Homo sapiens: one gene and its partners. The protein of the gene in region 2 interacts with the protein of the main gene of each other region in a pairwise test. Each region holds a gene or a part of one and is shown on either strand. Other genes may lie near its edges.

Region 1 (7,027 bases), on a different chromosome or scaffold from region 2:
ATACAGTGGCCAAAAGTTATCCCAGGCCATCGTGCTCCAGGGCACACCCCTAAGCACCATGCTACATGCTGAATGACTATCTGGTCATGAAAACTAAAGGCCCCAACCTGTTTGATCTCCCACTTCTCTGGGTCAGAGATTCGGGTGAGGCGCTTGCGTTCCAGTGAGTCGTCCTCTACTTCAGGAGCACTGACAAGGGACAAGTGAGTGGGTCTATCAGGATTCCGCATTGAGGTCTCCTCATTGGTCTCCCCGACAAGATTTCGCCGTCTATTTGGGTTTAGATCTTCTCCAGTCTCTTGATCCACATCCTAAGGCACAAAAACAAGGGAGCTGTCTCACTTGCTGTCCTCTTCCATTCCCTTGGCCATCACATGTAAGAACAGGCTGACCATCTCACCTACCTTCATGCTCAGGCTGGTCTTGGTCCCAGTGAAGGACAGCACTTTGACTTTGACCCTCTGGCCTTTGCTCACGACATCAGCTACATTGGCCACACGACCCTCCCGCCGGAGCTCAGAGATGTGCACCAGGCCTTCCCACCGCTTCCTGAGGGAGAGCCAGACACATCTGGAACATGCCAAAAAATATTTTTCCCCCAACCAATTTCTACCCTTACTGGAACTAACAAAAGAAAATGGTCTTAAACTCAAGAGAAAAGTACCATGAAGGTGGTCAAACAATAAAATAGTATTAACACTCTCCTCATGGGGAGACATGGGGTGGGGAAGCAAATTCTATCTGTCCCAACAAGCAAAGGACAGATCTCCTGAAGACAGAGAAAGGAATAAATGGCTCTGTAACATTTCAAAAGAGTCAATTTCTAAGAACCATGTATGGCTGATTTGACTAAAGTGTCATTAATCAAAGTAACTTTTTAGAATGTGAACATCCTCAGTGATAAAAGAAATTCTGCCCATCACTGGTGTGAACAAAAGAGCACCAGTCATTACCTTAGTCCTTCCAGCTGCACAAAGCAACCAAACTGCATGATGCTGGTAACTTTGCCATTATAAATGTCACCAATGGTGGGCTCTTCTGGAGGAGGGCGGTCCACATGCTTATCCCGCCATCTATCCAGATTCCGCTCTCCATATTTGTCCCGGTCCTTCCGGTCTTTGGGGGGACTCTGACTCCTGCTCCTGGACCGATATCTAGACTTCACTTTATTCCTCTCCCGGGTCCTGGAACGTGATCGAGAGCGGGATCGGTGTCTCCGCTTGTGGTCTCTATCTCGGTTTCGTTCCCTATCTCTGTCTCGATCTCGGTTTCGATCTCGGCTTCGACTCCGCTTCTTCTTCTTTGTCCTGTCCCTAACAAATCAATAAGCACCTGTTTAAAAAAGAAACCAATCCGATTTCATCTTCGCATCCCCAAGCACCCAGTACAGTGCCATGCACATGGTAGGTACCCACTAGGTTTTGAACTGAATTAGAGTTTCAATAACTACGACATCCCTATAAGCCAATAAAGAATTGAGCCACAAACATATTCAGCCTCTTTCAACCCTGACTTCTATATTCTGAACAACCTAGCATTTGCTACATACACTTAGCAGGAAGCAATGAAAACAGATCCAACAATATGATATATGACCAGTCCAGATTCTGTAAACTTGCCCAAAATTTTGCTTGGCTGGTCCATAATATTCAACTGTCACAGTACCCTAAACTTCCAAAGGACAGGACACTAAGGACAAACCGGTGTTCAGCATCTCTTTGCTTCTCCTGGCCTGCTGCGCTGGGCATTAAAGCTTCCAGTTCTTTCAGGACATCCACAGCAACTTTCACATCATCTTCATCCAACATGGTCTGCAGAGGTAGAGGCCGGCAAAGTTAGGAAAAAAAACTACTCAAGAATCTGTATGTACCTCAGGTACATCTATAAATCACTAATCACTATGTGAGGGAAATAGAAGAGGGGCAGAGATTTCAAACTTGATTCAGGATAGATGCAGAAGAAATGGAAAAAAGGCTCTTGAGAATTACTGCTACATTTGACAAATCCCCTCTGTCCTTAATAGAATTCTATGAAAGGCAGTTAGATATTAATCATCCCTGCCATGAAAGAATGCAAGTGATGATTATATTAATAGAAAACAGGTGTTAAAAATTTTAAAAAGCAACTCTCCCTCTGCACTCTTCCTCCCTACCCCCACTCCAGCTTTATTTTTTTAAATAGCCCTTATTGCTATCTGCTATGTTACATACCTATTTGTTTGTTTATTGCCTATCTCCTCCCCACCAGAATGTTTACATGTTTATTTCCTGCTCCCTACCCCAAAATTAGGATATAATCTCCAAAGGCTGAAACTCTTGTCTGTTCTGTTCACTGCTGTTATCCAGGTACTTAGAACAGTGTTTGGCATACAGTAAGTACTCAATAAATATTTATTAAAATGAAATTTAAAAATCAAAATGCTTTAAAAATTAGACCTTTAACAAGTAACAGAGCAAAAAAAAAAAATCTAATTTCACACCTTAGGCATCTGTTCCAGAACCTTATTTCATATTCCTAATCACTACTTCCCCAAATTCCCAATCTCATTTCCCTTGAATATCATTCTCAGAACCCCTTAACAAATTCAATACATAGTACATGCTCAGGGAGTGATCAAACACTTTCATTCTTAAAAATAAGTTACAACAAAGGCAAACTTAAAATTAATAAAATTACTATGAGACAAAGAAAAGGGGTTGAGAATATATATTTATAGTAGACACTCTTAAAATGGTATCAGTACCCGAACAGAAGGGTTGTCCGGTTGGCAAAGGACTGGGAAGAGTTCCTTCAGCTTTTCTTTTTCTGTTTTAGGTTTAACAACTGGATCTTGTTTCATTAAAGAGCATGAAGGGGTTAAAAAAAGAGATATATATTTAATATTATTAATGATTAACAAAATAACTTCAACAATAGATTTGTATCAAACTGAAACAGAACATGGCATTTTGCTATATATTAATCATACCTGTTACTATAAATGTAATTTAATTTTCTAAATACATTGATCACAAACTATCTCGAAATGTAGCAGAAAGAGGAGTGTAGCAATACTCATTGGGTTATGTCTTATCTTTTTTATTTTGTCTTAAGTCGTTTGAAATTTTTTTTCCCCTTGAAACGGGGAAAAAAACCTCTGTCACTCAGGCTAAAGTACATTGGTGCAACTATGGCTCACTGCAGCTTCACCCTTTTGGACTCAAGCAACACTCCTTCCTTAGCCTCCCAAGTAGCTGGAACTACGGAGGCACGCCATCATGCCTGGCTAATTTTTTTATTTTTTTGTAGAGATGAGGTCTCTCTATGTTGCCCAGGCTGGTCTAAAACTCCTGGGCTCAAGTGATACTCCCACCTTGGCCTCCCAAAGTGCTGGGATTCCAGCAGTGAGCCGCTAGGCCCAGCCCATTTGAAAAATCTTACTGGAACATTTACTTGCTCAGCAACTGCTGAGAGGAAAACAAATGCAATTTACAGGATGTTCAAAACCTACACCATTCTAGAAGCTAAGCTCAGCTGGAAGCTCTGCTTACCTTTGCTAGTGGAAGGCTTCGCTGGAGGCCGCATGGTTTGTATGAGACGCAGCAAGTTACTAATAAGAGAATCCTTTGAAAAGAAACATAGAACGAAAATTGTCAGCTCCCATATCAGTGCTTAAATACACTTAAAAGGCAAAGAATGTCCTGTAGGGAAGGGTGGTTACGCACTTGAATTTAGCTAATTGGAATACATGAAACATAGTGTGTCAACCTGGTGTAGCATGAACCTAGTATAATAGCTTCAGAGAAAGCCGATATTTAGGACTCTTTGGGGAGAAAAGTTATTAGGCTCCCTGCAACCATTTTATTTCCCAAGGTTTAGAACTACCCCCAAAACTTGTTTCCAACTTCCTGACTCACAGAACAAGAATGTAAATACCTACAAAGACTTAATGATGAAAATCCTGCCCTGTTTTCCTAGAGGTATCACAGAAAATCTGGTTAAATCATCACTACTTAATGGCATGAAAACATTACACACTTAATGGCTTATTTAATTGATATGTATAAAATTGTCTCCTTCCTATATCAAAATCCTATATTAAACCCTATCAAAATTTAAAATCAATAGTGACATTAAAACATAAATTATGTAATCCCAGCACTTTGGAAGGCCGAGGCGGGTGGATCACGAGGTCAGGAGATCGAGACCATCCTGGCTAACACGGTGAAACCCCATCTCTACTAAAAATACAAAAAATTAGCCGGGCATGGTGGCAGGCACCTGTAGTCCCAGCTACTTGGGAGACTGAGGCAAGAGAATGGCGTGAACCCGGGAGGCGGAGCTTGCAGTGAGCTGAGGTGGCGCCACTGCACTCCAGCCCAGGCGACAGAGCAAAACTCTGTCTCAAAAAAAAAAACAAACAAACAAACATAAATTAAAACATTAATATCTACAGATTATCTTCTCCACATATACATACCGTAAATTCTGCACCATTTTTGACGAGAGAAGCCTTAAAAGTATCAAAGGTGGTATTTTTCTCAGCAAGACTGATCACAAATTCAGCTGCAAATAAGAAACAGAATTCAGAAAAGAAGAGACATGAACAAGAAATCAGTTTCAAGTATGGTGAAAACAAAACTAATTAGGTTATCCAACAGTAATAAAAAACAAAGACCACCATCTGGTAAGGGTAAAGAGAGAAAATCTGGCCAGGTGTGGTGGCTCATGCCTGTAATCCCAACACTCTGGGAGGCCAAGGCAGGCGGATCACTTGAGGTTAGGAGTTCAAGATGAGCCTGGCTAACACAGTGAAACCCCGTCTCTATTAAAAATACAAAAATTAGCTGGGTGTGGTGGCAGGCACCTGTAATCCCAGCTACTTGGGAGACTGAGGCAGGAGAATCACTTGAACCCGGGAGGCAGAGGTTGCAGTAAGCCGGCATTGCGCCACTGCACTCCAGCCTGGGCAACAGAGTGAGACTCCGTCTCAAAAAAAAACAAAAAAAACAAAACAAGAAAACAAGAGAGAAAATCTAGACTGCTGAAATTATCCACACATATTCTAGAGAATTTATACAAATGAAAGGAAGATATTACTACAAAATGGCTCAATGTAGCCCTTGAGTGCATTTAAACTAGGAAGACCTATTTGACCCACATCATGGTACCCTCTTCTCACAAAACCACTACCTGGGCACGCTGCCACCTAGACTAGACTGTAAAGGTGACAATAAAAAGCATGAGCCCATGTAGACACACAGAGGCACACAACAGAAGGACAGACCCAATCTGTATATGAGGGCCAGGCAGCTGCTGGGTGGTGCAATCTCCACATTGATGAAAGACTTTTTTGCCAAATTTTTCTCCACAAACCTGCCTAGTTCTTCTTTTTTTTTTTTTTAAGACAGAGTCTGGCTCTGTCGCCCAGGCTGGAGTGCAGCGGTGCGATATCGGCTCACTGCAACCTCCACCTCCCGGGTTCACGCCATTCTCCTGCCTCAGCCTCCCGAGTAGCTGGGACTACAGGCGCCCACCACCACGCCTGGCTAATTTTTTGTATTTTTAGCAGAGACAGGGTTTCACCATGTTAGCCAGGATGGTCTTGATCTCCTGACCTTGTGATCCACCCGCCTCAGCTTCCCAAAGTGCTGGGATTACAGGCATAAGCCACTGTGCCCGGCACACCTGCCTAGTTCTTGAAACTTTCTTTTTTTCTTTTTTTTTTCTTTTTTTTGAGACGGAGTCTCGCTCTGTCGCCCAGGCTGGAGTGCAGTGGCGGGATCTTGGCTCACTGCCACCTCTGCCCCCTGAGTTTAAGCGATTCTTCTGCCTCAGCCTCCCAAGTAGCTGGGGCTACAGGCGCATGCCACCATGACCGGCTAATTTTTATATTTTTAGTACAGACAGGATTTCACCATATTGGCCAGGCTGGTCTCGAACCCACGACCTTGTGATTTGCCTGCCTCGGCCTCCCAAAGTTCTGGGATTACAGTCATGAGCCACCGCACCTGGACTTTTTTTATTTTTTCATTTTTTTTTAACAGTCTCACTCTGTCTCTCAGGCTGGAGTACAGTGGTACGATCTTGGCTCATTGCAACCTCCGCCTCTCGGGTTCAAGCAATTCTCTTGTCTCAGCCTCCTAAGTAGCTGGGATTACAGGTGCCCTCCACCACGCCTGGCTAATTTTTGTAGTTTTAGTAGAGACGGGGTTTTGCCACATTGGCCAGGCTGGTCTTGAACTCCTGACCTCAGGTAATCCTACTGCCTCAGCCTCCCGAAGTGCTGGGATTACAGGCATGAGCCACTGTGCCCGGCCTAGTTCTTGAAACTTCTAATATTAGAGCTATTTATTAAGCTACTTTCAGACAGTGGCTCACGCCTGTAATGCCAGCACTTTGGGAGGTTGTGGTGGGCAGATTGCTCGAGCCCAGGAGTTAAAGACCAGCCTGGGCAACATGGCAAAACACCATCTCTACAAAAAATACAAAAATCAGCCGGGGGTGGTGGTATGCATCTGTAGTCCTAGCTACTCGGGAGTAGACTGAGATAATAAGCCTCATACTATGAGACCCACAAAAAAACTGTAATGCTTTCATTTGAATGCTAATCCTAGAAAAGTAAATGAATAAATAACATGAAAGATCTAGATGACTAACTCATAAAGTAGTACTACCATACAATTTCCATCCTGGAATGTGCCTTTATCTTTCTGATAAAGTGAAAGCCAAATGCCATCAGGCTACACGAACACATCTTATGCATAATAAGTTAGTAACGATAATGTCAATGGTTAATACTTTTTGAACATTACTACGTGCCAGGCACTATGCTAAGTGCTTTTTATGGGTTACTTCATGATCCCCAAAACAACCCTCATAAGTAGGTGCTATTATTGTCATGTTTTACAATGAGGAAGCTGACGGTTTGAGACACTGACCTACCCAATAATAACTGGGGGGAGCTAGGAATAAAACCCAGGCAATCTAACTTCAGAGGCTACATTCTTTCAAGAAATGTGGAGGGAGAACTAAGTCCCATGGTGCT
Region 2 (7,027 bases):
TTTTTTTTTTTTTAATTTAAGAATCCAGGCTAGTTGTTTTATGCCACCTTAGTTTGGATTTGTTTGATTGTTTCCTCATGATTAAATTCAGGTTAACCGTGTTTGTCAAGCATAGTACATGGATTATTGCATTAGAATATGCATTCGAATGCATATTAGTATATTGCATTAGAAGGCACATGGTGTGAATTTGTGCTTATCATTGGTGGTAGTAAGTTTGATCACTTGGTTAAGGCAGTGCCTTCCAGATTTCCCAGTTGTAAAGGTACTTTGTTCTTTTTGTAATTAATAAGCAATCTGTGGAATGATATTTTGACACTGTGACAATCCTTTTTCCCGACAGTCTTTCACATAGTTGTTTTAGTATTCACTGATTCTTACCTGAATCAGTAATAGTATACTATAGTGATTGTAAAAATGGTGATTTTCTATTTCTGTAATCCCTTATGTATTTATTATTTGGCTTTCTTCTCTAAAGAAGATGTTTCTCTTCCTCCTGCCTCCACACTTACTTTCAGATCAGTGTGGACTTGTTCTGTTTTTAATTCATATATTAACTCATAATTTTATCCTTTATAGTGGTCTGGCCGGGCGCAGTGGCTCACGCTTGTAATCCCAGCACTTTGGGAGGCCAAGGCAGGTAGATTATGAGGTCAGGAGTTCAAGACCAGCCTGGCCAATATGGTGAAACCCCATCTGTACTAAAAATACAAAAATTAGCCCAGCGTGGTGGTACACACCTGTAGTGCCGAGAGGCAGAGGTTGCAGTGAGCTGAGATAGTGCCACTGCACTCCAGCCTGGGCAACAGAGCCAAGACTCTGTCTCAAAAAAAAAAAAAAAAAAGAAGTCTCCATGTTGGCTGGTGACATCCTTTTCAAGATGGTTCCTGTTTCTTCCTGACAGGTTCTTTTATTTGTTAGAACAGCAAGGTGTTCCAAGTTTACCCTGTTATTTTTCCTACCTTGGATTTGGCCATTTTTCCAAGGAGCTCAGGCTTTCCTTTAATGGAGAATGTTAAAGTCTGAGCACTAGACCATTACTATATATGTATGTCTTAACTTGCATGTAGAAGCCAGTGGGGGTGGAAGACATCAAGATACTACTAAAATCTCTGTAGTGCCCTGCACAATTTTAGACTCAGAGTATTCCTGCTGTGTGGTGTCATCAGGTTGTTCATACATAAGGACAACACATGGTGGCACTGGAATCAAGATTAGTTTTGTAAAATACAGAGCATTAAGCAAGTTTCCTATTTAAAAAAAAATGTTGGCATTTACGTTTTTGAGGTTTAAGTCTTTCTTGTACATTCATCTCTTCTATAGTTAAGGAATAATTTGTTTTTCCTTGCTTTGAAGCTGTGAGAGTGGGAATTTTTACCCTGGACACCAATTTTGATATTAGGGAAGAAACTAATTTACCTGAAGCTAATCAACAGCTTGAGGCTTGAGCCTACTGCTTTCTTTCACTATTTGCATATGTAGGTTTCACTTTTTCTTTTACCATTGAGTATTTTAATGTACATAATAATATTGATGAAGCCAGCCGCCCACAATTTAATGTTTCATGAATGCTTTCATTGACTATAGCATTAGACTTTGAAATTTTAGAATATTAACAGCTACATATTTATTCATTCAAGCTCTGTAACTTTTTATACTGAAAGAAAATAATACATAACATTTAATAGGGTGGAATTCACAGCTTGTCTTGCCGTGTTCTTCTTTTGTGCCGTTTTTTCCCTCCTTAATGAATTCCTAGATATCTGCATGGTATTTGAAGTTTTGGGGCATCATCTGCTCAAGTGGATCATCAAATCCAATTATCAGGGGCTTCCACTGCCTTGTGTCAAAAAAATTATTCAGCAAGTATGTATCTTGAATCAGCAAGTATCTTAGTCTTGACTATGTAGTGATTTTTTAATATTCTTGAAGTGTCAGGACTTTATTTTTTCCAATAGAATTTTTGTTTTAAGGCCGGGTGTGGTGGCTCATTCCTGTAATCCCAGCACTTTGGGAGGCCGAGGCGGGCAGATCACGAGGTCAGGAGATCAAGACCATCCTGGCTAACATGGTGAAACCTCCTCTCTACTCAAAATACAAAAAGTTAGCCGGGTGTCTTGGCAGGCACCTGTAGTCCCAAGCTACTCGGGAGGCTGAGGCAGGAGAATGGCGTGAACCCAGGAGGCGGAGCTTGCGGTGAGCCGAGATCACACCACTGCACTCCAGCCTGGGCGACAGAGCGAGACTCCGTCTCAAAAAAAAAAAAGAATTTTTGTTTTAAAATTCTTTGTTTTAAAAAGTAAGTTATTGGCTGGGCGCGGTGGCTCACGCCTGTAATCCCAGCACTTTGGGAGGCCGAGGCGGGCAGATCACCTGAGGTCAGGAGCTCGAGACCAGCCTGGCCAACAGTGCGAAACCCCGTCTCTACTAAAAATACAAAAATTAGCCGGGTGTGGTGGTAAGCGCCTATAATCCCAGCTACTCGGCAGGCTGAGGCAGGAGAATCGCTTGAACCCGGGAGGCGGAGGTTGCAGTGAGCTGAGATCGCGCCACCGCGCTCCAGCCTGGGCGACAGAGCAAGACTCCATCTCAAAAAAAAAAAAAAAGTTAATTGCTAAAATTAAATATTTCATTCAACCTTTAGAATTTATTGTGCTTATTCTCTTTTTAAATGTTTTAGCATAACCATTTTCCCCCAGGTTTGCCTCCTATAATAATTAGAAAGGGAAGCTGAGGTTCCTGACTTGGGAACATTGGAGCCCTTATCCAGAAGTTCTGGTTGCAAATAGTAATTTTACATGAATAGATAATTGCTATGTCAGATTATTGCCATCTCTTTATACAGCATGATTCATAGGCATTTTCTAATTTTCTAAAGAGCCTTCAATATACAGTATAGATTTTACCATCAGGAAAATATTAATACTTCAAGGTGCAAAAATTTGTTTGGATTATATGTCCTGGAAAGAGCTCCAAACTGGGCAGCAAGAGACCTCAATTCTTCCTCAGTGAGGAAATTTGAATTAAAGATATCTAAATGTCTGTCAGCACCTACATTACAACACTTAGAGGGTGTGTGTGTGTTGAAGTTTATTCTCAGTCTTTGCATTGTACATAGTTGAAGAATATCTCCAAATAGAATCAGCTTTGTAAAACATTGAAGAATTTTTTATTGTAAATAATTTCTTGCCTTTTTCATAGTTTAATCTTTCTGAGAAAGTTTATTTGTGCTTTTTTAAAAGGTGCTTTTATTCTCTATAGAAAACGCTATCATATCTTTTTTTTTTTTTTAATGTCATGTTATAATCTCTTACTTCTCCAGAAAGCCTGTATTTTGTGTTTGCAAGTCTGCCACTCTATTTCCATTCAGGTGTTACAGGGTCTTGATTATTTACATACCAAGTGCCGTATCATCCACACTGACATTAAACCAGAGAACATCTTATTGTCAGTGAATGAGCAGTACATTCGGAGGCTGGCTGCAGAAGCAACAGAATGGCAGCGATCTGGAGCTCCTCCGCCTTCCGGATCTGCAGGTGTATTTTCTTTTAGGGACTTCGCTATCATTAGAAGTTAAAAAGAAATTTCTATTTTTATTCTGTTACCAGGGAATTAAACACCACTCAATCCATTTCAACAATAACATATTTAAGAAACATTATCAGCTTCCAAGAGACATTCTCACTGTTACTTCCATAGGGGAAGGAGAAAACTAGATATTGTGTCTTTGTGTTGTATGTTATAAAAGCTGGTGTGTATTGTTTAAAAATATTTTTTCTTATGAGTTGATGATTTTTGAAGTGTTTACCTCTAACTGTGATCACACATGCTCATTTATAGGACTGGTAGTCTGTAGAGGGACAAGATAACATTGCTATTAATAGTTTAGGTTTAAACACTGGAGTAGACAGACTTGGTTTGAATTTGGGCTTCATCCTAGACTGAGAAACCTTAGCTGAGTTATTTTACTTTATTTTCCCTCAACTGCGAATTATTGGGATTAAATGGTAAAGCAGTTAGTAGTGTGCCACACAATATTATATACCAAATAAATTGCGGGACCAGGCACAGTGGCTCATGCCTGTAACGCAACACTTTGGGAGGTTGAGGTGGGTGGATGATTTGGGCCCAGAAGTTTGAGACCAGCCTAGGCAACACAGTAAGACCCTGTCTCTACAAAAATTAAAAAAATTAGCCAGGCATAGTGATGCGTGCCTGTAGTCCATTTACTCAGGAGGCTGGGGCAGGATGATTGCTTGAGCCTAGGAAGTCAAGGCTGCCACGAGTTGTGATAGTACCACTGCACTCGAGCATAGGCAACAAAGTGAGACCCTGTCTAAGACATAAAATTAAATAAATAAATAAAGGCTGCTTTATGATTTTTTTTCTTTTGAGATACAGATTTTAGTTTTAGTAGTGTGTCATTTTTTAGGAACTTGCTTGATCCTCAAGTTGAGTTATTAGTTATACACTTCTTTAAAAAGGAAGACTAAAGAAGGGGGAAATGGGGAGTTGGTTGTTAAATGGATGTAGTTTCTGTTTTACAAGATGAAAACATTCTACAGATCCTGTTATACAACAGTGTGAATAGTGTTAAAACCACTGAATGTACACTTATCTAGAGTATAAATTTTTATTATGTGTTTTTTGTTAACCACAGTTATTATACTAATATTTTAAAAAGAGGAAGACTGAAGATCCTACCTTCCAGCTAAGCTACACTGTTATCCATGACATGCTGTAGAGCAAATTACTATAGCTCTTGATGTCACCTAGACTCCCCTTTTAAAACTGACAGATTCTGGGTAGCATTTGAGGTGAAGAGGTTGTTGCTTGTCCCATTCTATTTTAAGCAGTGCATGGGAATGGAAAATAGGTGATTTTTAGCAACTTTAGTTTACCTGGGGAGGAAGAATTTTATTTATCCCTTTTTTTTAAGTTTGGCAATTTCTATTCATTATTTTCTTTAAAAATGGTAATAATATAGCTTCTACTTAAGTCATTTAAAAACAATAGTTTTCTCTGCAATGTAGACTACATAAGAAAGACTTTTCATTCTGGTAGAGTGTTTTATCTGAGCCTTAGTTTATATTGCCTGATGAATGCCAGAATTCTTACTTGGTTTTCTTTTCTTTTCAGTCAGTACTGCTCCCCAGCCTAAACCAGTAAGTATAAGGTGTTTTTATATTTAATTTTGATCTATGGACTATGGGCATGGGTTCTTCTGTTGTGGATGGTAACAGTTTGTTTCAAGTTTGAGAACCAAAAGGAAAAAAAATTCCTGCGCTTCTATAATTTTCTCCAGTAAATTCCCATGCACCTTCATCACATTTGTACTGGTGAGGCCTCTAAAAAATTCGAGTTTGTCTGAATGTAAACCAACCCCACGGACTGCTCAGAAGACCACACTTTGTTATTTATTCTGTTTTTATTTGGGTTTATAAGAGTATCCCGCATCTTTTAATTTAATGAAAGACTTAAGTGCTATGTTAGGGAAAGATTTGTGAAATTTAATTAGGAAGTAATTAAAGTTAACAACTATCTCCAACTGGGGGTAATTAATTAGCCACCTGAAGGCTTTATCTGTTTGTAATCTCCGCCCAGGCTGACAAAATGTCAAAGAATAAGAAGAAGAAATTGAAGAAGAAGCAGAAGCGCCAGGCAGAATTACTAGAGAAGCGAATGCAGGAAATTGAGGAAATGGAGAAAGAGTCGGGCCCTGGGCAAAAAAGACCAAACAAGCAAGAAGAATCAGAGAGTCCTGTTGAAAGACCCTTGAAAGAGAACCCACCTAATAAAATGACCCAAGAAAAACTTGGTATAAATAGAACATCACGAAAATTACTGTACAACACACTTTAACGTTAATTTATCATTGCTATATAATACAGTGGTTTCATACATACAACACATCTCTGGGGGTATCTTTATAAGAATATGGATCTTGTCATAAATGTTAGGCAGGTAATATTTAAATGTAATTTGTAACTTTTCTCAGGAAATGGAACATAGATTTCATTTAACAATTGGGTAAAAGTAAGATCTTGGCCCTTCCGGAAATAGGTTTTAGATGTTTAGTCATGTTTTTATGTCACTCAGTATAAGTTCTAGAAAATGTTTTAATCTTGTGAGAAATGTTTCTGTTCTTTCACTCACACACATATGCATATATCTTTTTTTGTTCGTTTGTTCCTTAGAAGAGTCAAGTACCATTGGCCAGGATCAAACGCTTATGGAACGTGATACAGAGGGTGGTGCAGCAGAAATTAATTGCAATGGAGTGATTGAAGTCATTAATTATACTCAGAACAGTAATAATGAAACATTGAGACATAAAGAGGATCTACATAATGCTAATGACTGTGATGTCCAAAATTTGAATCAGGAATCTAGTTTCCTAAGCTCCCAAAATGGAGACAGCAGCACATCTCAAGAAACAGACTCTTGTACACCTATAACATCTGAGGTGTCAGACACCATGGTGTGCCAGTCTTCCTCAACTGTAGGTCAGTCATTCAGTGAACAACACATTAGCCAACTTCAAGAAAGCATTCGGGCAGAGATACCCTGTGAAGATGAACAAGAGCAAGAACATAACGGACCACTGGACAACAAAGGTACCTATGCAGCTATACTTCCTCAACACTCCTTCCCTGCACAACACATTCACAGATTTCTAGACTAAAAGTATGATTGTTTTTGTAACTATAGCTTTACAACAGGTGTGTCTAAGTTACGTTTAAATTGTAATCTGTAGCTAACTTTATCCATCATGTACTGAGTACACAGCACTTCATTTGTTGCTGTGAGGGCAGAGGTTTTTAATTCTGGAAACTCAAGGCGTTGCTGTGCTCTTTTTGTCTCAGAAAATGTAAGTTGTCACTTGGGTATTGCTGACTGTATTACTCTTACCTTGGAGAGCTTTATTACTCATTGAGTATTTCTCTGTTCATTGAACAGTCTTATTGATGATGCCTGTTGTCTGTAGGAAAATCCACGGCTGGAAATTTTCTTGTTAATCCCCTTG
Region 3 (7,027 bases), on a different chromosome or scaffold from region 2:
TGTATAATGTGCATTTATTCGAAGTAAGAATTTGAAAAGACTGAATAGTGGAAGGTTATCTGTGGTGATTACGCCACTGAGAGAAAAGGAGTCCTGTAGAGACCACCCCCATTTTAAGGTTTCACAGCTACCTCACGGAGGTTAAAAACTATCCTCTCATTTTAAGGATGAAATGTGCATATGTTAAAGGAAGTTTTCTTCATGATGAATCATTGCTTATATTAGGGAGGAGCACCTTCTGGAAAACCGCTCAGATGTATTAAAACTTCTCAAGCTGAGTTTTCTGACAGCAAATGCGAAATGAATGCCAAACCTTGTGCCTCTGTTCCTTGGGGTGTTGTCTGCTGTTTGGCCTGGGATGGGAAAACGTTACTGTTTGATGCAGATTGTTGTGTGTACCGAGGTCAATACAGATTAATGATTTCAACTCGTCAAAGGAAGTTTCACTGTAGGGTATTTTCATAGGATGCACAACTTGGAATTCTTGATAAACCCATAGTGAAGGAAGTCAGAGGGAGCAGATAGATGTGCACTCTCGGGAAGATTTCAACCATGTTTTCCTTGGCCAGACCCTGTGTAGCATAGCTGCAGAATACTGGTGAGAAAAATAATCTGAGTGAGAGTATTTCTTTTCTTTTCTTTTCTTTTCTTTTTTTTTTTGAGACAGAATTTCAGGCTGGGTGCGGTGGCTCACGCCTGTAATCCCAGTACTTTGGGAGGCCGAGGCGGGTGGATCACCTGAGGTTGGGAGTTGGCGACCAGCCTGATCAACATAGATAAACCCTGTCTCTATTAAAATACAAAATTAGCTGGGTGTGGTGGCGCATGCCTGTAATCCCAGCTACTCAGGAGACTGAGGCAGGAGAGTCACTTGAACCCGCGAGGCAGAGGTTGTGGTGAGCCGAGATCGAGCCATTGCACTCCAGCCTGGGCAACAAGAGCAAAACTCTGTCTCAAAAAAAAAAAAAAAAAGAGACGGAGTTTCGCTCTTGTTGCCCAGGCTGGAGTGCAGTGATGTGATCGTGGCTCACCGCAACCTCTGCCTCCCAGGTTCAAGCCATTCTCTTGCCTCAGCCTCCCGAGTAGCTGGGATTACAGGCATGCACCACCTCGCCCGGCTAACTTTTGTATTTTCAGTAGAGACGGGGTTTCACCATGTTGACCAGGCTAGTCTGGAGCTCCTGACCTCGTGATCCACCCACCTTGGCCTCCCAAAGTGCTGAGATTACAGGCATGAGACACTGCGCCCGGCCAGAACTGTGTTTTCTGAAGGTTCCGGAAACTTTGGTGCCCTTCCTGGTCAGTAGTGTTAGACCAGTAGAAGGTACAGAAGAGAACACAGGTTGTGGAGTAAAAAACGCCTGACACACTGGATTTAGCAGCCATGTGGAATATTGTGGAAGGACTTAATGAATGTGATATTTCAGCTCTGCTTGATGTTGGGCATCCAGGGGAATGGCCAGTAGTATTTTTCCCTGCCTCCTTGGCAAAGCTGAAAAGCTACATCCAAAGAGGGTAATCATAGAACCCAAGCCTATCCTCAGTGTGCTTAAGCAGGGACTCTTTTGGGAGCTCTCACATTGAAAAGTAAGTGCTGAATTTTGCTTCATGTGAGGTTTTTTTTTTTCAGACGGAGTCTCACTCTGTTGCCTAGGCTGGAGTGCATGGTGCTATCTCTGCTCACTGCAACCTCTGTCTCCTGGGTTCAAGCAACTCTCCTGCCTCAGCCTCCTGAGTAGCTGGGATTATAGGCGCCCGCCACCACACCTGGCTAATTTTTTTTGTATTTTTAGTAGAGATGGGGTTTCATCATGTTGGCCAGGCTGGTCTCAAACTCCTGACTTCAGGTGATCCACCCACCTCTGCCTCCCAAAGTGCTGGGATTACAGGCATGAGCCACCGCGCCTGGCCTCATGAGGTTTTCTTTTTTTTTTATTTTGAGACTGAGTTTCGCTCTTGTTGCCCAGGCTGGAATGTAATGGCTCCATCTCAGCTCACTGCAAGCTCCGCCTCCCGGGCTCAAGCAATTCTCCTGCCTCAGCCTCCCGAGTAGCTGGGATTACAAACGTGCGCTACCACACCCGGCTAATTTTTGTATTTTTAGTAGAGACGGGGTTTCACCACGTTGGCCAGGCTGGTCACGAACTTCTGACCTAAGGTGATCCGCCCTCCTCGGCCTCCCAAAGTGCTGGGATTATAGGCATGAGCCACCGCGCTCGGCCTCATGAGGTTTTCTAATGTCATATCTTTCTTGACAGTTGAGTTTTTTATAATGGAAATCAATTTGTACTTCATACTTTGTTGTACTTCAGGTTTTAGGGTCTGCTTCCTTTGGTAGTAGCTTTTTCTTTGAACAACAAAGCCTTGATTAGTTTAAAGCATTTTTTCTGATAGCTGCCATTCATTTTTCAGCTACAATGCTTAGTTTGTGGAAACTATATATTTTAAAGGACAACACCCACAACTTAGAAGAGTGAATGAGGCCAGGTGCGGTGGCTCATACCTGTAATCCCAGCACTTCGGGAGGAGGAGGAGGAGGCGGGTGGATCACTTGAGGTCAGGAGTTTGAGACCAGCCTGGCCAACATGATGAAAACCTGTCTCTACTAAAAATACAAAAATATTAGCCGGGCGTGGTGGCGTGCCCCTGTAGTCCCAGCTATTCGGGAGGCTGAGGCAGGAGGATTACTTGAATCTGGGAGGCAGAGGTTGCAGTGAGCTGAGATCGTGCCACTGCACTCCAGCCTGGGCGACAGAGTGAGACTCCGCCTCAAAAAAAAAAAAGAAAAAACAGAGTGAATGAGGTAAAAGTTGTCAGATTTTCAGTGACAGTGATTTTAAGTGCAAATTTGGCTTCTAGAACCACTATTGTCCTATCTCTAAGTCTTCTATGTAACCGACCATAACGTGAGTCCCATCTGACTTCAGAGTAAGAATGATAAAGGAGAAAAGTCAATCTTTCGTCAAAATAAACATCACCATACAAGGCAGACCCGTTGTCTGCCGCCTCCATGTTAGCTTTATTATTGGTGATACTGAAGGATGTTTTGTTAGTGAGTATGCCACGTGCTTTCTTTTTTTATCTATTATTTTATTTTATTTTATTTTTTTGAGACGGAGTCTCGCTCTGTCGCTCAGGCTGGAGTGCAGTGGTGCGATCTTGACTCACTGCAAGCTCTGCCTCTCTGGTTCATGCCATTCTCCTTCCTCAGCCTCCTGAGTAGCTGGGACTACAGGCGCCCAGCTAATTTTTTTTGTATTTTTAGTAGAGAAGGGGTTTCACTGTGTTGGCCAGGATGGTCTTGATCTCCTGACCTCGTGATCCGCCCGCCTCGGCCTCCCAAAGTGCTGGGATTACAGGAGTGAGCCACCGTGCCCAGCCTAGCATGCTACATGCTTTCTATGAGACTGCATCCCAAGAGTCAGACATGCAAGCCTCTCTATTTTTTTCCCCCTCAAGATGGATTAAAGGTTTAAAGCCTTCCTTTCTTTTTTTTTTTTTTTTTTTAAAAGACGGGGTCTCTTTAAAAAGCTGGGCGAGGTGGCTCACGCTCGTAATCCCAGCACTTTGAGAGGCCAAGGTGGGTGGATCACCTGAGGTCAGCAGTTCGAGACCAGCCTGACCAACATGGAGAAACCCCATCTCTACTGAAAATACAAAATTAGCTGGGCGTGGTGGCACATGTCTGTAATTCCAGCTCCTTGGGAGGCTGAGGCAGGAGAATCGCTTGAACCTGGGAGGCGGAGGTTGCGGTGAGCCGAGATTGCACTACAGTCTGGGCAACAAGAGCGAAACTCCATCTCAAAAAAAAAAAAAAATTAAAAAGACAGGGGTCTCTGTTGCTCAGACTGGAGTGCAGTGGCTCAGTCACAGCTCACTTGAAGCCTTGACCTCCTAGGCTCAAGCGATCTCTTCCCCTCAGCCTCCCAAGTGGCTGGGACTACAGGCACATACCACCACACCCAGCTAATTGTTAATTTTTTCATAGAGACAGGGTCTTGCTATGTTGCCCAGGCTGGTCTCAAACTCCTGGGCTCAAGTGATCCTCCCATCTTGCCCTCCCAAAGGTGTTGGGATTACAGACATGTGCCACTGCAACTGGTACTAACGTCTTTTTTTTTTTTTTTTTCTGGTTATGTAGACATGTTCTTTTGTCCTACTGGGGGTGTCTCCTAGTTGGGATGTTGGGTTTTGTTAACATGCACTCTATAACTTGACACGATGATCCTCAGCACACAAACCTCCCTGTTGCTGTGTAGATGGCGAGAGGCAGAAGGTGTCTGCATAGAGTCCTATACTTAGGATTTAGATTAAAATCATACACTGTTTTCTAATTGTACTGCATATGGTACACATAATAGCACATCATGCTGTTCTTACTGACAACATAAATCATTTTGTTTTAGTAATGGAACGTTTTGCTTGTCAAATGGAGGAACTGAGTGGGACAATTATCTGTCCTCACTTAGATGTCCAGGGTCATTTCCCAGGCTAAGAAAATGTGTAGAGCATGTATTTGGCTACGAACCAGCCTGTTCTCCTTTATTCCCTTTGATACACAATCAGCTACACAAAGCCAAGTGTTAGGTTGTGATGTAATTGCCAAAATCTAACTTCTGTCCGCTCTTTCCTCTTCCTCTGTCTCTGCATCTTAAGCATCGAGCATCTCAAGTAGTCAAGATTGCAAGACAATGCCTAGAAATTTGTTGCAGTGAGACTGTTTTCTGGCCCTTTCCTTTTTTTTTTCCCCTTTTCTGAGACAGAGTCTCACTTTATCACCCAGGCTGGAGTGCAGTGGCACAGTCTTGGCTCACTGCAAACTCCACCTCCTGGGTTCAAGCGATTCTTGTGTCTCAGCTCCCCAGGTAGCTGGGATTACAGGTGCCCTGCCACCACACCTGGCTAATTTTTGTAGTTTTAGTGGAGACTGGGTTTTATCATGTTGGGCAGGCTGGCCTTGAACTCCTGACCTCAAGTGATCCGCCTGCCTCACCCTCCCAAAGTGCTGGGATTACAGGCGTGAGCCACCACGCCCAGCCCTGGCCGTTTCCTATCCCTGCCACCCCACATGCTGCCATTTACTGAATCCTTGGACTGATGCATAAATAAAACTGGGCCAGGCACCGTGGCTCACACCTGTAATGCCAGCTCTTTGGGAGGCCAAGGTGGGTGTATCACTTGAGGTCAGAGGTTCAAGACCAGCCTGGCCAACGTGGCGAAACCCTGTCCCTACTGAAAATACAAAAAAAAAAAAAAAAAAAAAAAAAAAAAATTAGCTGGGTGTGGTATCACGTGCCTGTAATCCCAGCTACTTGGGAGAATGAGGCAGGAGAATTGCCTGAACCCCGGAGGCAGAGGTTACAGTAAGCTGAGGTCGCGCCACTGTACTCCAGCCTGGGTGACAGGTGAGACTCCTTAAAAACTGGCAAAAGCCAATTAATGTAGTTGTGATGATTACAGTCCAATTATCTCTGGGTCTAAAATAGAAACTTTACACTATTAAATGCATCAGTTTCAAGTATCACGTAGTCACGATGGTAAAAGTGAAATGAGGCTTCTCAGCCATATCTCCTTTCTTAATTTTCTTATTGCAGTGTCAGTGTTCCAAAAGTGATCATTTCTGTTGGTGACAGTTGAAACACCAAGTCGCGTTGTGTGCTTTCTACAGTAGGTAGGCACTGAGGTCTGCATTTTCTGTTTCTTTCCCACAGCGCATGGATTTAGGAGAATGTACCAAAATCCACGACTTGGCCCTCCGAGCAGATTATGAGATTGCAAGTAAAGAAAGAGACCTGTTTTTTGAATTAGATGTAAGTTTTATTTAATGTTGATTTATTCCTACTGCGAAGAACCCAATATTGAACTAACAAGAAAAATGTAACATACGTAAGTTATGAAGCAAAATAATAAGGTAGTTGCTTGTTATCCTGCCACTCAAGCTCAGAGCTAGAATACAGCCAGTACTGTTTATATGTTGTGTCCAGCGTCCTGTCAGTGTCCTAAATGATAATATGTGTTATCTCATTTTGTTGCTTTTAAAAATTTTAATTACATTTTTATGAGTCCTTGAACAGTGTTTATTTTTGCTTAGTTTTGAATGGTTTCATAGTGTAGAGTCTTTAAAATTAGATTTTTTTGGTTCAGTATCATGTTTCTGTTTGCCCAGGTTGTTGCATATAGTTTTCATTGCTGCTTGAATAATTCTCAAACGATCTTTGCTTTATTCATAGACATTTAGATTGATTCTAGTTTTGCTACTGCAGACAATATGAATATTTTTGCATAACTTCCTTGTCACGTGGATAAGGATTTATTTTGGGTATATTCCTAGGAGAGGGATTGCTGGTTTATAGGAGATACCCGTATTTATCCTCGCAAGACAATTTTGTAATGTTGTCTTCTTGTTTCTATTTGGTAAAGTCCCATAGCAGTGTCTGCACGCTCACCAACACTTTGTATTATCAGACTGTTTAATTTTTGCAGTTTAGTGGTTGTAAAATGGCATTTCTTTCTGATCTCAATTTGCATTTTTTTAGTACTCAGTAGTTGTGTTATTTTATCTACATTAGTAAATTCTTTTTTTTTTTTTGAGACGGAGTTTCACTCTTGTTGCTCAGGCTGGAGAGCAGTAGTGCGATCTTGGCTCACTGCAACCTACTCCTCCCAGGTTCAAGCAATTCTGCCTCAGCCTCCTGAGGAGCTGGGAATACAGGCATGAGCCGCCATGCCCGGCTGATTTTGTATTTTTAGTAGAGATGGTGTTTCTCCATGTTGATCAGGCTGGTCTCGAACTCTCAACGTCAGGTGATCCGCCCGCCTCAGCCTCCCAAAGTGCTGGGATTACAGGTTGAGCCACCGTGCCTAGCTTCTTTTTCTTTTTGATACAGAGTTTCACTCTGTTGCCCAGGCTGGAGTGCAGCAGCATGATTATAGCTGACTGTAAGTGAATTGCTGGGCTCAGGTGATCCTTCTTCCACAGTCTCCTAAATAGCTAGTACTACAGATGCACACGACCATGTCTGGCTAA
Region 4 (7,027 bases), on a different chromosome or scaffold from region 2:
GCCACTGCCCTCCACCTGGGCGACAGACTCCATCTCCAAAACATTTATTAATTTATATACTGTTTTTTCAAAAGTGATGAGGTGGTTTAGAAACACCAAATAAAAACATGGGTAAAATCTTGGCCCATCAATTACTACCTTTCTAATCTTGGGCAAGTTTACTAGCCTCTCTGAGCCCATTTAAATGAGTCTGTATATAAAAGCACAAAGTCTCTATTGCATACAAAGTGCTCAGTATTTATTCCTATTATTTCAGGAAAATACCTTTAATATTACCTACCAGTTTTGTATAATGGTTACAGAAATTCTTAAACTGTAGCTATCATCTTGTCTAGCTTACTGATGAATACACAAAATGCCAATGAAGTGACTTACCATGTATCACTAACCGGTTTAATTAAAGACAATGACAAAACTAGAACCCAGGTTTCCTTAAAAGTACTTTTTCCTCTCTACCACAATGCAGATTTAAAACAAATCCTCAGGCTTTAGTTTTGTCATTGTAAATAAAACTTCTGTGAATGCAGGGAAAGATACTACATGCTGGTATGAATATGAATGCAGTATAACTATAGTTTATTATATCCTTTAAGAGTAAAGTGCCTGTGTTGTTCTTTTCAGGCCAATATAGATTAAATGTAAAACTGTACTATGTGATCTGGTACACAGTACAACTGTTGATACTATAAAAAAATCAAACATTCAAATATTCCTAATGTTTATAAAGGCCAAATTCCAAAGGCCAAAACTCCAGGTGTAACTCAAGAAAAAATTCAAAAAAATTATTTCATAAACTGTTTTCTTGAGCGGCTCTATTTCTATGTTATAGTTGGTTACCACTGGGAGAACTGGACAGTTAACTTAAAATACAGAACTAATACAAGAGGGTTAAAAGTCCATTTATGAAGTAAAGTAGAAAGCATGTACAAAGTCGTTCACTTACAGAAGACTAAAACAACAAATAGAAAACCTAAATAAACGATTCTGTGATCAGAGTAGACTCAAAATGTTATCAGGTGTATAAATACTTAACCAAATTATTAACATAACTCTGTGTATCTTATGTTAGAAATAGAAGTAAGCTTTTAATGCAACAGGCCTAGGTCAATCATTTCTGCTAAAGTGTGCCTCAAAAAAAGCAAATGGGGTTCCTAAAATTCCTGAACAAAAAGCATGCTTTTATGTCCATTATTGCATAATAAAACAAACCTGCAATTGGATAAGAAAAAGATACAAAAGATAACCGTCAATCTTTACCAATTTATTTTATACAAAACAGTAGCAATGTAGAATATGGGAATCGTCTTCCGCTGCCACGCACGCAAGTTGTGAACATTCCAAGCCAATGTATACAATTTGGAGGGGAAGGCTAAACAATAGCATCAACCACGCTACTGAACATAGGAATTTTTCATTTAAAAAGATTAAAAATTAGATAGCAATGTCTTCTTAATATTGCTCTCGTCATTGAAGACTGAGGAAAAATAAAAAGTGACTTTATAAGTTTTTTAAAAAAAGAGGCAATGGGGAAAAAAACAAGAGGCTGCTACAACACTGCCATACAGTCAAACCATCATACTTCAATATTTGCATACTCGATAGCAGCATTATTTTTACTGAACCGTGTGCAACTACATGTAGAAACACATCAAAGCAAAATATCATGGCAGTTATCAATCAAGATCCAAAAAGGAAAAAAACAAACAAAAAAATAACTCTAGGATGAACACACTATAAGAACATTTATGGAGAAAGAATCAGTATCTACATTCTTGGACTGTTCCATTCTGCCCCAATAAAAGTGTCAATTCAACTGTCAGCTGTGGATTTTTGGCGGATTTGAGTTTTTCCAGTTCTTATGATACTGCATGCTTGGAACAAAGGGGGTCATAATAAATCCTTCTACACAATGAACTTCATAGGCAGACAGCTGAAAATAAATTTACTACTTGTAAACACACACAAAAAAAAAATACAAGATTTTTTGTATCTTTAAACAATCAGTGCTTCCAAAAGCCCATTATCTTCTATATCGACCTCTCTCCCCTCGGTCTCTGTCTCGATCACATAATCGCTCTCTTTCTCTTTCTCTATCACGTCCTCTATCTCGCTCTCTGTCTCGTCTGTTATCTCTAGGGCGGTCTCGCTCTCGTTCCCGGTCTCTTTCACGGGGTCTACTTCTCCGGCCACTGACAACAGCTTGTGTGCGACGAAGGAAATCATCCACCCTCATATCATAATCATGCTAGAAAAGGAAAGAAATGTGTTAGGTATGTCAAAAAGGCAAATAGTGTTAAGTGGATCCCTGATTTGAAAAAAAAATTTATATAAACAATTTTAAAATATAAAAAAAGAAAAGTCTCTGTATTATAATCGGCGGAGAGAACAATCCAAAGAAATGCAATAATAAATTAATTCACAGAAGGTAATATGCTGACATGGTTTAGAAAAAGGATGATGCCTCATTAGACATCTACAACAGATTATTCAAATCTCTTTATGCAGTTTTCCACTTAACTTTAATGACTTTTCCATCTGATCCCTTCAGTAAGATTTAGGCCAAAGATATTAACTAGTGATGACCTTCAACTATTATCCATATATACTGCCAATTATGCTAAATGTCATCAATGTTTTTCTGGCACAGGCTAGCTCTACATTTTTCCTCCAATTCTACCAACTTCAATTTTACAAACTGAGTATTATGTTCCAGATTTTCTTTCAAACTAAATTGTTACAACTAAGTTGATGTGCAAGAAAAGTTGTGGCTGCTCCTAAACTTGGCCCCTGCTCTAGTTTAAACTTTCTACTCTTAGTTCTCAGCTTACCTTACTGATTTTGGTCTTCTCTCAAAACTTAGCTGAAATAAGATTTGAAAACACAGTCCCACATTACCTTTTATATATGTGATTATGTAAGTAGAGAATATGTATACTAACCAAAAAATCACTACATAAAGATCCATAAAATAGAACTTGTTAAAAAGGATATAGTTGAGGAAAACAAAAAAATCTCAGACTTCCTATTTTAAAAGCCATGTGATCAGTTATGGGAATTTTTAAGACACCACAACCCATCTAGTCAACTAAGATTTCATTATAGATAGACTGTATATTTCTTTCTTGTGTGCTTAACTGAAAATAAACTACTAATTTAAAGTTTGTGAATTAGTTAACTAGTACTCTCAAATTATTTTACAGAATGTTAGAAGTCATGATAAGATTTGATTTAGAGAAAATTACTATCTTTATAAGGAAATTACTGACAACACAAAAAAATGTCTCAAAGATAGGCTAGAAAGCTGCTCTGATTCTCACAAATAGGCCCACTCTTCATCTTAAGTGGGAAAATAAAAAGATGTTTATTTGGCCCCATACAGACTCATCAACCTAAGTAGGGAGTGGAAAAAAATTCTAACTTGCATATCCTACTTAGTTTAACAACAAAACTACCTTTCTAAGGCTATCAAACTTATATGCATATGAATTATGCTTCCAACACTTGCCAGAAGACAATTCTGCTTTATAAATAAAAGTACTATTGGGGGGGGTGGGGAAGCATTTAATAAACTCAGCCCCACTAGTTAAAAACCCAGAAAACTCAAACTAAAACTAGAGTCTTTTTTTCACTGGTCCTGTTTTGAAGCCATCAAAAAAAGCTTTCACATCAATCTTATCAAATAATTAACAGAATCAATGAATAAAGGACATGTCTGCTACATATCATAACATCTGGTTATTCTTTGCTAACATCACAATAACCAGAGGTAAAACAATTTATCAGTTACTAGCTTTAACATTTGGTAGAAATAAAAACAAATGACTAAATGAGATTACAGCTTATCAGCTAACTTAATATACACGATCTATCCTAGAAAAATTGAGTAAGAATACACAAAAAGTTCAGAAATATCTATTAACAATATTAATTACATAGCATAATTAAGATCTCAATATGGAAAGAACATAGCCTAGGTACTACCTAAAAGGAGTTCTATTTGTAGGCGTTTGCCTTAAGCAGTTTGTGATTTGATCAGTAAAAGAAATATATTCTATCTATATAATCCAAAGGGGCATAATCAGGCATTTTTAATAAAAACAAACAATTATTCCAAAACAGTCTGCAGTAAGAATATGCAATGGTCCGTCAATCATCATACTCTGGTCTCCCCATATTTAAGTTACCTACAGAATTCTAAGTAGTTCCCTCACACCTTTGCCTCCTTGTGCACTTACTACTCGTTTATCTCTGTATCTTGCTTCATGTGGTACTGGATGATGTCCTGAGTAAGGGGGATGAGCTTGAGGAGGTGGAGCATGGTGCTGATAGTAAGGATGGTGTGGAGGTTGTTCCATTCCTGGGTAAGGGGGCTAAAAAAGGAAAACCATTTACATTAAGAATCTACCAACACCCTTGTAAACAAGCGATTCTTAGAACCCTTCATCCAAAACACCAATCCCAAACAAGTGAATCTGTACTAGACATTTACTTTGATGGCATTAAGGTGTTTCAAAATATGCTTTTTGTCGAAAATTACACATCTTCTAAGATTTAACATGTTTATGCTTTTCTACTCCTATCATATAAATAACAATGGAAATAGCAAACACTTACATGGTGCTTACTGTGAGCCAGGCATTGTTCTAAGCACTTTACTAGTCTCATTTAATTCTCACAGCAACCTTATGAGATAGATACTATTGTTCCCAGTTTACAAAAGGGAAAACTGAAGCAACAAGGAGTTAAGTAACCTGCTTATAGTCACACTACTGTTAAAGTGGTGAAGCAGGCATACGGCATCAGGCATCCTAGTTCTGCAGTTGGTAAACTGGTTAACCACTTTGTATGTATCTGTTCTTAGAAACATCAACAGGCCTGGTGTGGTGGCTCACGCCCATATCCCAGTGCTTTGGGAGGCTGAGGGAAAAGAATCCCTTAAGCCAGGAGTTGGAGACCAGCTTGGGTAACAGAGTGAGACCTTGTCTCTATAAAAAAATTAGCCAGGCACAGTGGCATGTGCCTGTAGTCCCACCTACTCAGGAAGCTGAGGCAGCAGGACCACTTGTGCCCAGGAGTTCAAGGCTGCACAGAGCTATCATCACACCACTGCATTCCAGCCTGGGAGACCGAATGAGACCCTGTCTCTCAAAAAAAAAGTCCAGGAGCAAATTAACTTTTAAATGCCATTTAAAAAATGAATAAAGGGTAAATTAAAGATTACTTTCATAGTTACTATCAAGATCATATATTATTAAATTTTTAAAATTTCCTAGAATCTAAAGGGGAAAAGTCTCATAATCATCTGCATATAATAGTATAAAACTGTATACCTTAAAAGTGAAACAAAAGTCAGATGAAGAGGCCATATAACATATTGCATTTAAAAAAAGACATAAATTAAAATGTAAGAAAACAGTAGAAGCTACTTCAACTTCCAGGTTTTTATTTCTTGAAAATTAATGCTTCAGCTATCTTCAATATCTTAAAATATACTCTAAGACAATTCAGTTTTCTTAAAGGAAATAATTAAAAAGCAGGAATAATCAGGGTTTAATTAATCTTATTTTACACAGAAAATTTAGTGAGTATTAGATCAGGCACTATGCTAAACTTAACATGTACTTTGTAAATTTATCTTGACAATGAAAATGACACTACTACATTAAATTTTAAGCTATACCAGGACAGTCATGATGTCAATTTCATTCACCATGATATAATCAGAACAAGCACAGTGCCTTGCACAGAGTAAGTACTAAATATTATATTTGATAAGACAAAGCATCAGTGAATGCCCATGGAATTTTACAGATGAGGAAAACTAAGAGTTGTATTAAGAAATTAACCCAAAGTCACAGAGTTGGGAAGAAAAAGAAATATATCTGAACCCAAGCGGACTTTGCACTACTAATTACTACCATAATACACTATTACAGTTCTCAAGCCTGTACTATTAACACAAATGAGCTTTTAGTCTTTAGTTTGAAAGACAGCATACAATTATTTATCATCAAAAATCTGTATTTTAAGTCTTTTTGAGATGGAGTCTCCCTCTGTTGCCCAGGCTGGAGTGCAGTGGCGCAATCTCGGCTCACTGTAACCTCTGCCTCCTGGGTTGAAGCAATTCTCCTGCCTCAGCCTCCCCGAGTAGCTGGGAGTACAGGCACACGCCACCACACCCAGCTAATGTTTTTTGTATTTTTAGTAGAGACAAGGTTTCAGTTTCACCGTGTTGGCCAGGCTGGTCTCGAACTCTTCACCTCAGGTGATCTAGCCGCCTCAGCCTCCCAAAGTGCTGGGACTGCAGGTGTGAGCCACGGCGCCTGGCCAGTTTAAGTCTCTTTAATGAGTAACTGTAACAATCATATTCCGAGTAAGCACCTGAAATACTAGAACTGCAAATTAAGTTATGTAACTTATAAAAATAGAATAATACAAACCATTCCTTGCCAAGGTGGTGGTGGTCCCATGTTATGAAATTCCCTCACATAATCATTGTAGGACTAAAATAAAAGATGATAATGTCAATATAATTAAAAATTATCACAGAACTGCAAAATAAATCAGAGCCTGATTTTATCCACATTAAATAGATAAAATGAAATGCTTACCCCATTTAAAAACACATCTCGGCGAACTCCTGAAAATCGTCTGTTGGGAATAAGATTTGTGAAACTAAATTCAGGTAATTCATAAACTAGTTCCAAGAATGTAATTCAAAACTAGGCAAGAGTGAACCCGACTTACCTGTCCACTTCCTGGTATCGTGGATCCTTTAAATACCCTGTTCAAACATCAAGCATTTTAGTAAATCAAATTTATATTTTTCTTTTATGGCATTATAATTAAACCTTCCTTACCACTCGTTTCAATTCTTTCCATGAAATATGTACTTTAAGTGATGCTACTACTGTATTATCCCATTTTCAAATTTTCTTCTCAGATTACATGATAATCTAGGAAATAACTAATGATATCATAGAATTGTAAACTGCTAGAGAAGCTTTCAGATAGGTATCTTCTATGT

What was found.
Region 1: the proteins of SRPK1 (region 2) and DHX8 interact in binary tests that used the Homo sapiens proteins (3 or more experiments, as listed by UniProt).
Region 3: the proteins of SRPK1 (region 2) and LUC7L interact in binary tests that used the Homo sapiens proteins (3 or more experiments, as listed by UniProt).
Region 4: the proteins of SRPK1 (region 2) and YTHDC1 interact in binary tests that used the Homo sapiens proteins (3 or more experiments, as listed by UniProt).

Annotation. Positions count from the first base shown.
Region 1 is NC_000017.11:43,486,967-43,493,993, reverse strand, and holds part of DHX8 (ATP-dependent RNA helicase DHX8), read right to left. Parts: intron 4,546-7,027; coding exon 4,460-4,545; intron 3,604-4,459; coding exon 3,531-3,603; intron 2,830-3,530; coding exon 2,744-2,829; intron 1,812-2,743; coding exon 1,702-1,811; exon of another isoform or gene 1,620-1,701; intron 1,333-1,619; exon of another isoform or gene 1,314-1,332; coding exon 954-1,313; intron 550-953; coding exon 405-549; intron 312-404; coding exon 108-311; intron 1-107.
Region 2 is NC_000006.12:35,869,072-35,876,098, reverse strand, and holds part of SRPK1 (SRSF protein kinase 1), read left to right. Parts: intron 1-1,759; coding exon 1,760-1,866; intron 1,867-3,370; coding exon 3,371-3,536; intron 3,537-5,139; coding exon 5,140-5,165; intron 5,166-5,604; coding exon 5,605-5,818; intron 5,819-6,197; coding exon 6,198-6,617; intron 6,618-6,988; coding exon 6,989-7,027. UniProt on the Homo sapiens protein: Serine/arginine-rich protein-specific kinase which specifically phosphorylates its substrates at serine residues located in regions rich in arginine/serine dipeptides, known as RS domains and is involved in the phosphorylation of SR splicing factors and the regulation of splicing.
Region 3 is NC_000016.10:219,432-226,458, reverse strand, and holds part of LUC7L (putative RNA-binding protein Luc7-like 1), read left to right. Parts: intron 1-5,711; coding exon 5,712-5,810; intron 5,811-7,027. UniProt on the Homo sapiens protein: May bind to RNA via its Arg/Ser-rich domain.
Region 4 is NC_000004.12:68,312,079-68,319,105, forward strand, and holds part of YTHDC1 (YTH domain-containing protein 1), read right to left. Parts: intron 6,785-7,027; coding exon 6,748-6,784; intron 6,676-6,747; coding exon of another isoform or gene 6,652-6,675; coding exon 6,612-6,651; intron 6,504-6,611; coding exon 6,441-6,503; intron 4,371-6,440; coding exon 4,236-4,370; intron 2,246-4,235; coding exon 2,021-2,245; 3' UTR 1-2,020. UniProt on the Homo sapiens protein: Regulator of alternative splicing that specifically recognizes and binds N6-methyladenosine (m6A)-containing RNAs.